2 linked regions of the Homo sapiens genome follow. The protein of the gene in region 2 interacts with the protein of the main gene of each other region in a pairwise test. Each region holds a gene or a part of one and is shown on either strand. Other genes may lie near its edges. The genes, in order: DNAJA1 and TM4SF1.

Region 1 (3,833 bases), on a different chromosome or scaffold from region 2:
GGCGCCATCTCAACTCACCGCGACCTCTGCCTCCTGTGTTCAAGTGATTCTCCTGCCTCAGGGCCTGCCACCATGCCTGGCTAATTTTTTAATTTTTAACAGAGATGGCATTTCACCATGTTGGCTAGGCTGGTCTTGAACTCCTGACCATCCACCTCGGCCTCCTAAAGTGTTGGGATTACAGGCGTAAGCCACCAAACCAAGCTGAAATATTAATTAATCCTAAACTAGTTTAAGATGTTCCCAATTTCACCTCCACTCCATTAAAAAAAAAAAAAAAAAAAGGTGGGTTCTTACTGTCACCCAGGCTAGAATGCAGTGGCATGATCATAACCTTGAACTCCTGAGTTCAAGCCACTCTTCTGCCTCAGCCTCCCCAGTAGCTAGGACTCCTGGCCTCAAGTGATCCTCCCACCTCAGCCTCCCAAGTTGCTGGGAATATAGCATGCACAGAGGGTGTTATGTTAGCCATGGATCACAAACATTTGCTGTTAATCATCCATCTTTCTTGTGCTTCAGTGTTCATCATACTCATTATTTAGCTCAAAATGGTAGACCTGAATTTATACTTAGTATTGAGTTACAATTTAAGTTTCCTACAGAGATGCTTTTGGATATTTATAATTAAAAGCAATTCAATTTATCATAAATGAGATTGAAAACTGGTGAGAGCTTTAAGGCACTTAAATTGCTTTACAAAGATTGAGGGCAAATTTTTGTCCAGGGATGTTTTCCCCACCCATCTGCTGCTTAGGTTCACACAAAACATCTAATTGAAACACATTTTCAACGTTCCATACTTAGAGACAAAAAGCTAAAAATCTGATCCTATGTATTCAACCTCTTATGATCTGAACAATGGTTAACAATCTTCCTGAGAAATAGGTTCTAAGAGTAATGGAAAACACTTTAAAAAAAACAAAAAAACAAAAAACAAAACCAACAACCCAAATATGTGATATCAATTTGAGTGGTTGATAAAAGTCTTTACCGAGTAAAAACAGCATGGTCCTTCTGATCTAACACAATGATAATATCGCCTGGCTCCAGTCCTGGTTCTTGGTCTCCTTCACCATGGAATGTTATCTTCTGGCCATCTTTCATGCCTAAAAACAAAACATTAATTTTGTACTTTTATTAAATATCCAACTAAGGTCAGAATCATAAAATCTATACATAGATGTTTGTTTATGCATAAAAATCACAGAAATGACTAAGAAAGCCCACTTAAGTAGTTCAGTCCAATTTGCTCCTGAAGAAAGGTATCATAGTGGAGAACACAAACTCCAGAGGCAAAGAGACTAGCCTTCAAATCTCAGAGCTGCTATTCACTGGCTGGATTACCCTGGGGAAGTAAGCTGCATATCCTTTCCAAGTTTCAACTTTCCCACAGACACCTACACCTCATTAGCAATATTTAGAGTATTAACTCAACAGGTATATGCTGGTACTAAACCATGACTGGCTAACACTGGTTATAACCAAAAAATGTTAATTAAGTATTTCAGTTTCATTACTTATAACACATCAAATTACTTCTATTAAAAGTCTAACAGCAATGTAAATCAAGACCCTTCTATTGTAGTATTTATATATAAAACTAAAAAAATTTTAAATCTATAATCTTCTCTTGAGATAGGATCTTGCTCTGTTGCCTAGGCTGGAGTGCAGTGGCACAAACATGGCTCACTGCAGCCTCCATCTCCTGGGCTCAAGTGATCCTCCCACCTCAGCCTCCCGAGTAGCCAGGACCACAGACCAGCTAATTTTTGAATTTTTTTTTTTTTAATAGAGATGGGGGTTCTCATGTCGCTCAGGCTGGTCTTGAACTACTGGGCTCAAGGGATCCTGCCTCGGCATCCTATAGTGTTCGGATTACAGACCTGAGCCCCTGTGCCTGAAAATCCGTATTTTAAAGAACTATTCAGTATAGTCCCCTTAAAAAAAGGGTAATTATACTTTGAGAGGCCGAGTCAGGAGGATACCCTGAGGATAGCACCCTGGAGCACAGGAGTTCCAGACCTTGTCTCATTTAAATTAAACAAGCAAACAAAACAATCAGTGCTAGACACTCCCTTAGCCCATGTGGTCCGTAAAATACAAGGGGAGGAGTATTTTCTAACAGGGCAAAAAAACACGCCTTTTTTTTTTTTTTTAAACTGAGACTTCGTGCCCCTCACCTCTGACCCACATATTTTAGTTCAGTAAGGGTTTGGGCAACGTCTCTTAGAACATAACTCATGTAAGAAAACCTGTGTTTGTAGAGTATTACACCAAAGCAGTTATCTCCTGATTATTTCCCAAGATCACTCTGGTTACCTAACAGAGCAATCATGTTTCACCTTTACGTATGGAAAATATTAATCCTGTATAAACAGAGCCAACAGTACAATGAATTCCTACATATCCATCCAATTTGGCTTCAGCAGTTACTAACTCATGACTAATATTTCATGTATTACACCCCTACGCATGCCCCCCACATATACTTTCAAGCAAACTCCAACTATATCCATTAACCCACAAATACTTCAGTACGTACCTCTTAAATAAGGACTTAAAGCGCTATCAGTATCATACACTGACAAAATTAAACAATCTGTCTTTAATCGTGTATTGAGGCAAAATAACTTGTTATGCTAGGGAAGCAATTAAACTCAGCTAGGTTTTCCTGAATACAGAGTAAGAGTAGGCACAGCACAAATGCCTTCACTTGCTATATAGTTAGGGCATTAATTTCAAGTTCTCACTTACAGTCCATTGTTGATAGGTTCTTGGAAATTGCTTTAAATGAAATGACACATAACAAGACCAATTTTTTTCCCCTCAGCTGTGTTACAGTGACATGACATTATTTGAGGACCTGCATGACATTATTTGAGGTCATTCTGCTAGAAGTCCCAGTTTCCAAGAACCTATCAACAACGTTAAGACTTACTCTGTATGCTATTGGTATCAAGAACACCTCAAAGTATAAACCTTAGGCATGGGCCCACTAAGGGGTAAACACAGATTTATTAAGTTCAACAACTGGCCAAGGAAACTTATTTTTACCTTTCAATGTACTACATTCTTGGGTGGAACCCTGGGGGTCAGAGAGGCCAGTATCATGAGTCACATGATAGAATCCTATTGCAGCCACTTATGTTAATGTAGATTTGTATATTAATATGGAAATATGTTCAAATATTAACAGTTCCAGATTGGTATCATACCACAGTACAGTATAATAGTAGACCCATTTATAAACAGCAAAATCTGAAAAGAGATTACCATAATGTTGACTTAAGTTTCCTTCTGGGGTTATATACATTTCTTAAAATTTCTGCAGTGTATTGCTGTAATACATTTTAAAATGTTTTTGCAAGTTGACAAGAGTAAAATTTAAAAATTGACAAATCAATCAAATCCCGAGAATACAAAAAAAAGGTTATATAGTTATTTCTAAATCTGGAGCCCAATGGGTTAGGGAAGTGTCAAGTCTAAAAAAATGAAAGGTAGTCTATCAAATCAATTAACGGAGCATTTAAATATAATAGATGGGCAAGTAAGCCAATTAAGTGGGCCAATACGCTTATTTAAACTAGCCCAGGCCAGGTATGGTGGCACACACCTGTAATCCCAGCATTTTAGGAGGCCAAGGCAGGCAGATCATTTGAGGTCAAGAGTTTGAGACCAGCCTAACATGGTGAAACCCCATCTCTACTAAAAATACAAAAAAAATTAGCCAGGTGTGGTGGTGCACACCTGTAGTCCCAGCTACCTGGGAAGCTGGGGCAGGAGAATCGCTTGAACCCAGGAGGCAGAGGTTAGAGTGAGCCAAGATCGCATCA
Region 2 (3,397 bases):
TTGTGTACATAGAGCCAACTGCAAAGAACTAAGACAATCCTGTGACTGTGAGACTCGAGGAAGCTTGTTACTGACAGCTAAAGTGAATGCTATAATTGTGTTGCTACAAAGATGATATCAGAATAAATGCTGGTAGGTCGAGCATGTTTGGTTTTGCCTTTTTCTTTATGATGAAAACAATGGTATATTAACACCAGGGCCAGACTACGACATTTTCATGCAGGTTCTTACCTGTTGGTGAGAGCAGCAAAAGCCACATATGCCTCCAAGCACTCCATTTATTACTTGAATAAGACACAAGATGAATTCAATTCCACCAAGAGCCAAGAGGATAGAAAACAGAGATACATTCCATTCCACAATGTGCTTGGGTTCAGTGCACTCGGACCATGTGGAGGTATCCAGAAGGTACCTGTGGGTAAAAAGAGAAACTTCTGACACACGGTCATACTTGAGGGGATACTTCATAAACTACTTTTGTTTGGTGGTTTTTCATTCAGAAAAAAGGAATGAATTATTCAATATCCTGTGTAAGTTTCTTCCACTGCATGTCATTCCACAAAATGGAGGAATTTAGCCCAGATCCTACTGTAATGATAAACATAAAATTATAATTTATAATTTTTGACCCCAATCTAGGATTACATGGTCAGAAATTCTCACCTTATAATGATATTTATATTCCCTAACAGGCATCTGAATTCTTATAAACAAAAATAAAAATGCAGAACTGTATTTGTGCTGTGTTTAAAGCTAGGTAAGATTCATGTATGTGTAGGAAGTAAACTACGAGCAAATGCGGAAAAATGAAAATAATTCATGTGCTAAAGTAGAGTATGTGTAGGTGTTTTTTAAAACTGTTTTCCAATTTTATTGTTGTTATTGGTATAAAAGATGGGTATTTGTATTCAATATTGAGTGAATATTTAGAAAATACAATCTCTTTAGGCTAGTTTTTTTTTTGAACTTTAAAATATTAATTTAGATCATTTTATTACATCTCAATTTGTTACTGCTGAAAATTATCCAAATTCTGGCAAGTTTGGATATTTAATATGCTGGAATTTTTCAACTGAGACCTTTGGAACAAAGCTATTTTTTGTTTTTAAGGAATAAATTAATTTGCAACAGGAAGCAAATTCATGGGATTAAACCCAACTAATTTGATAGCTCTTTACTTTTTTCTGAGACGGAGTCTGACTCTGTTGCCCAGGCTGGAGTGCAATGGCGCAATCTTGGCTCATTGCAACCTCTACGTCCCAGGTTCAAGCCATTCTCCTGCCTCAGCCTCCCAAAGTGCTGGGATTACAGGCGTGAACCACCACGCCCGGCTGATAGCTCTTCACTTTCATGATGCTGTGCCCAAGAGTTGATAATAGCATGTAGCACACTGCATTTGCTCATTCAACAAAGATTATTGAGCAGTCAGTGTGAGTCTGACACTGAGCCAGAGCTGGGGATATAATGGAGCACAGGGCACGGGCTCTGTCCTGAAAGAGCATAGCTTCTAAAGGAAGAGACAAGTCACAAGTAATCTCAATGCAACAGATATGCTGATCGGTAAACAAAATATGGAAGAGCCACAGAGGAAGGGCATCTAACCTAGTCCAGGGAGAACAGCTGCTTATGTATCTATTCAATAAGGCTGAGCTCCATGAAGGTAGGAGCCAGACCTATTCATCATTGTATATCCAGCCGCTAGAACAGTATCTGACACACAATAGCCACTCAGCACATTTTAAAAGCAGTTGAATGATAAATAACAATATGAAGTTGCTTTGTGAAATGTCAGCAAACCATACTGAGGTGATATCTGACTATAGATTCTAGGATTTAGTCGATTTTATAAATACCTGGATATTCTTCCAGTCTGAAAAATTCTACTTCTGATAGCTCTCCTAGAATTTCAGCCTTTGCTACAGAGTATTTGGATTCTTAACAAAATATAATACAATCATGTGGGAAAATCAAGGTTTGACTTAATTCCACAAAGAGGCCTGGTATAATTCTTTTCTTATCACGACTTCCTTCCACAACAGAACAAAGGGGCTTGGAATTTGAGACCTAACTTTAGAATAGTTCATTGAGCCAATCAGAGATTATAGTTGTTCATTTCAAAAAAAGTTCTGTTTTTGTGGCCCTGTCTTTCTGCATGTCAGCAGAACAAAAATCTATATTTTCAGGTCTCAATGTAAAAAAAAATTTTTGGCTCCACCTGGCTCCCAGGCAACTAACCTGTGGCTTGTGACTGTTAGTTATTTCCCATATTGAAATCCTTGGACAGTTTTAAATGAAGAATGACATAGAAGAGGAGGAAGGTTTCTTGTAGAATCCAGAGTGGATAATGGGAGGGGCAAACAGTCAAATAGCTATAAAAACCATTTAGCAATACTACCACCTCTCCCTGCATTCTGGTTGCATAAGTCATGACTTTTCTTAGAAGTCTGTTTGTGCAATAGTTTTGTATGTTTGTACATATGTGAATAGCCATTTTCTACTAGTACATCCAGTATGTTCTGATAAAAGCTGAGTCATGATTGATCACAGTTTTGAACACCAAAATTTCAAACTTCTGTAAGTATCAATTTTCCTTCAAAGGCTACCATTGGGTTATGTTTATTGTAAGGTAGTAGCTAATATTAACAGCTAACAGTGGCAGTTGCACACAATGTGGCAGCCTCTGTGGGGAACATTTTACATATTATTTCATTAATTCTCATGACAATTGCCATTGATTTTATTTTACCAGTGGAGTAACTGAGATGCAGAGAGCTCATTTCACCTTTTCCTACAGATAGGTGCAGAGCTGTGATTGAACCCAGCTAATTCAAATTCATGATCTCATAACTGTGCTAAATTTGTGAGATTCATATATCCTCACTACATGCTTTAAATTCATGGGGTCAAACATTCTTGATAATATAATTTGTTATTAATATTATTTTTAATCATGAATCTCAAAACTAAACCTTTCAAAATTCAACTTCAGAAAGTTGAGTAGGGAAAAGGGAAACTCAGAATCAACTCCTGCTCAAAGAAACATGTCATCCATTCATCACCACATACATCCGTTTCTATCAGCTGTGCTGTTTCTGTTCTTTTCTGGATAACTGATAAAAAAAATAAGTATCAACATAGAATGGTAGAACAGCACAAATTATCCTGATATTATGATTGTGAATAGGCCTTACTTATATAGCTTAATAACTAAAAAAGGGGGCATTGTACATAGTTTGTATGTTTTATATGAGTGTATGTATGTGTATGTTTTATATGAGTGCATGTATACACAGGGGTAAGGGCATGGTTTGCCCTGGGCTTGGGTTAAATTCATATAGTTGCCATTCTTATTATATATGGATTCTATAATACTTTCTTATAAAGTAGTAAAATGTAT

What was found.
Region 1: the proteins of TM4SF1 (region 2) and DNAJA1 interact in a two-hybrid assay, tested with the Homo sapiens proteins (one large-scale study listed by BioGRID and IntAct).

The regions. Positions count from the first base shown.
Region 1 is NC_000009.12:33,031,489-33,035,321, reverse strand, and holds part of DNAJA1 (dnaJ homolog subfamily A member 1), read right to left. Parts: intron 1,107-3,833; coding exon 992-1,106; intron 1-991.
Region 2 is NC_000003.12:149,371,456-149,374,852, forward strand, and holds part of TM4SF1 (transmembrane 4 L6 family member 1), read right to left. Parts: intron 413-3,397; coding exon 232-412; coding exon of another isoform or gene 212-231; exon of another isoform or gene 147-211; intron 1-146.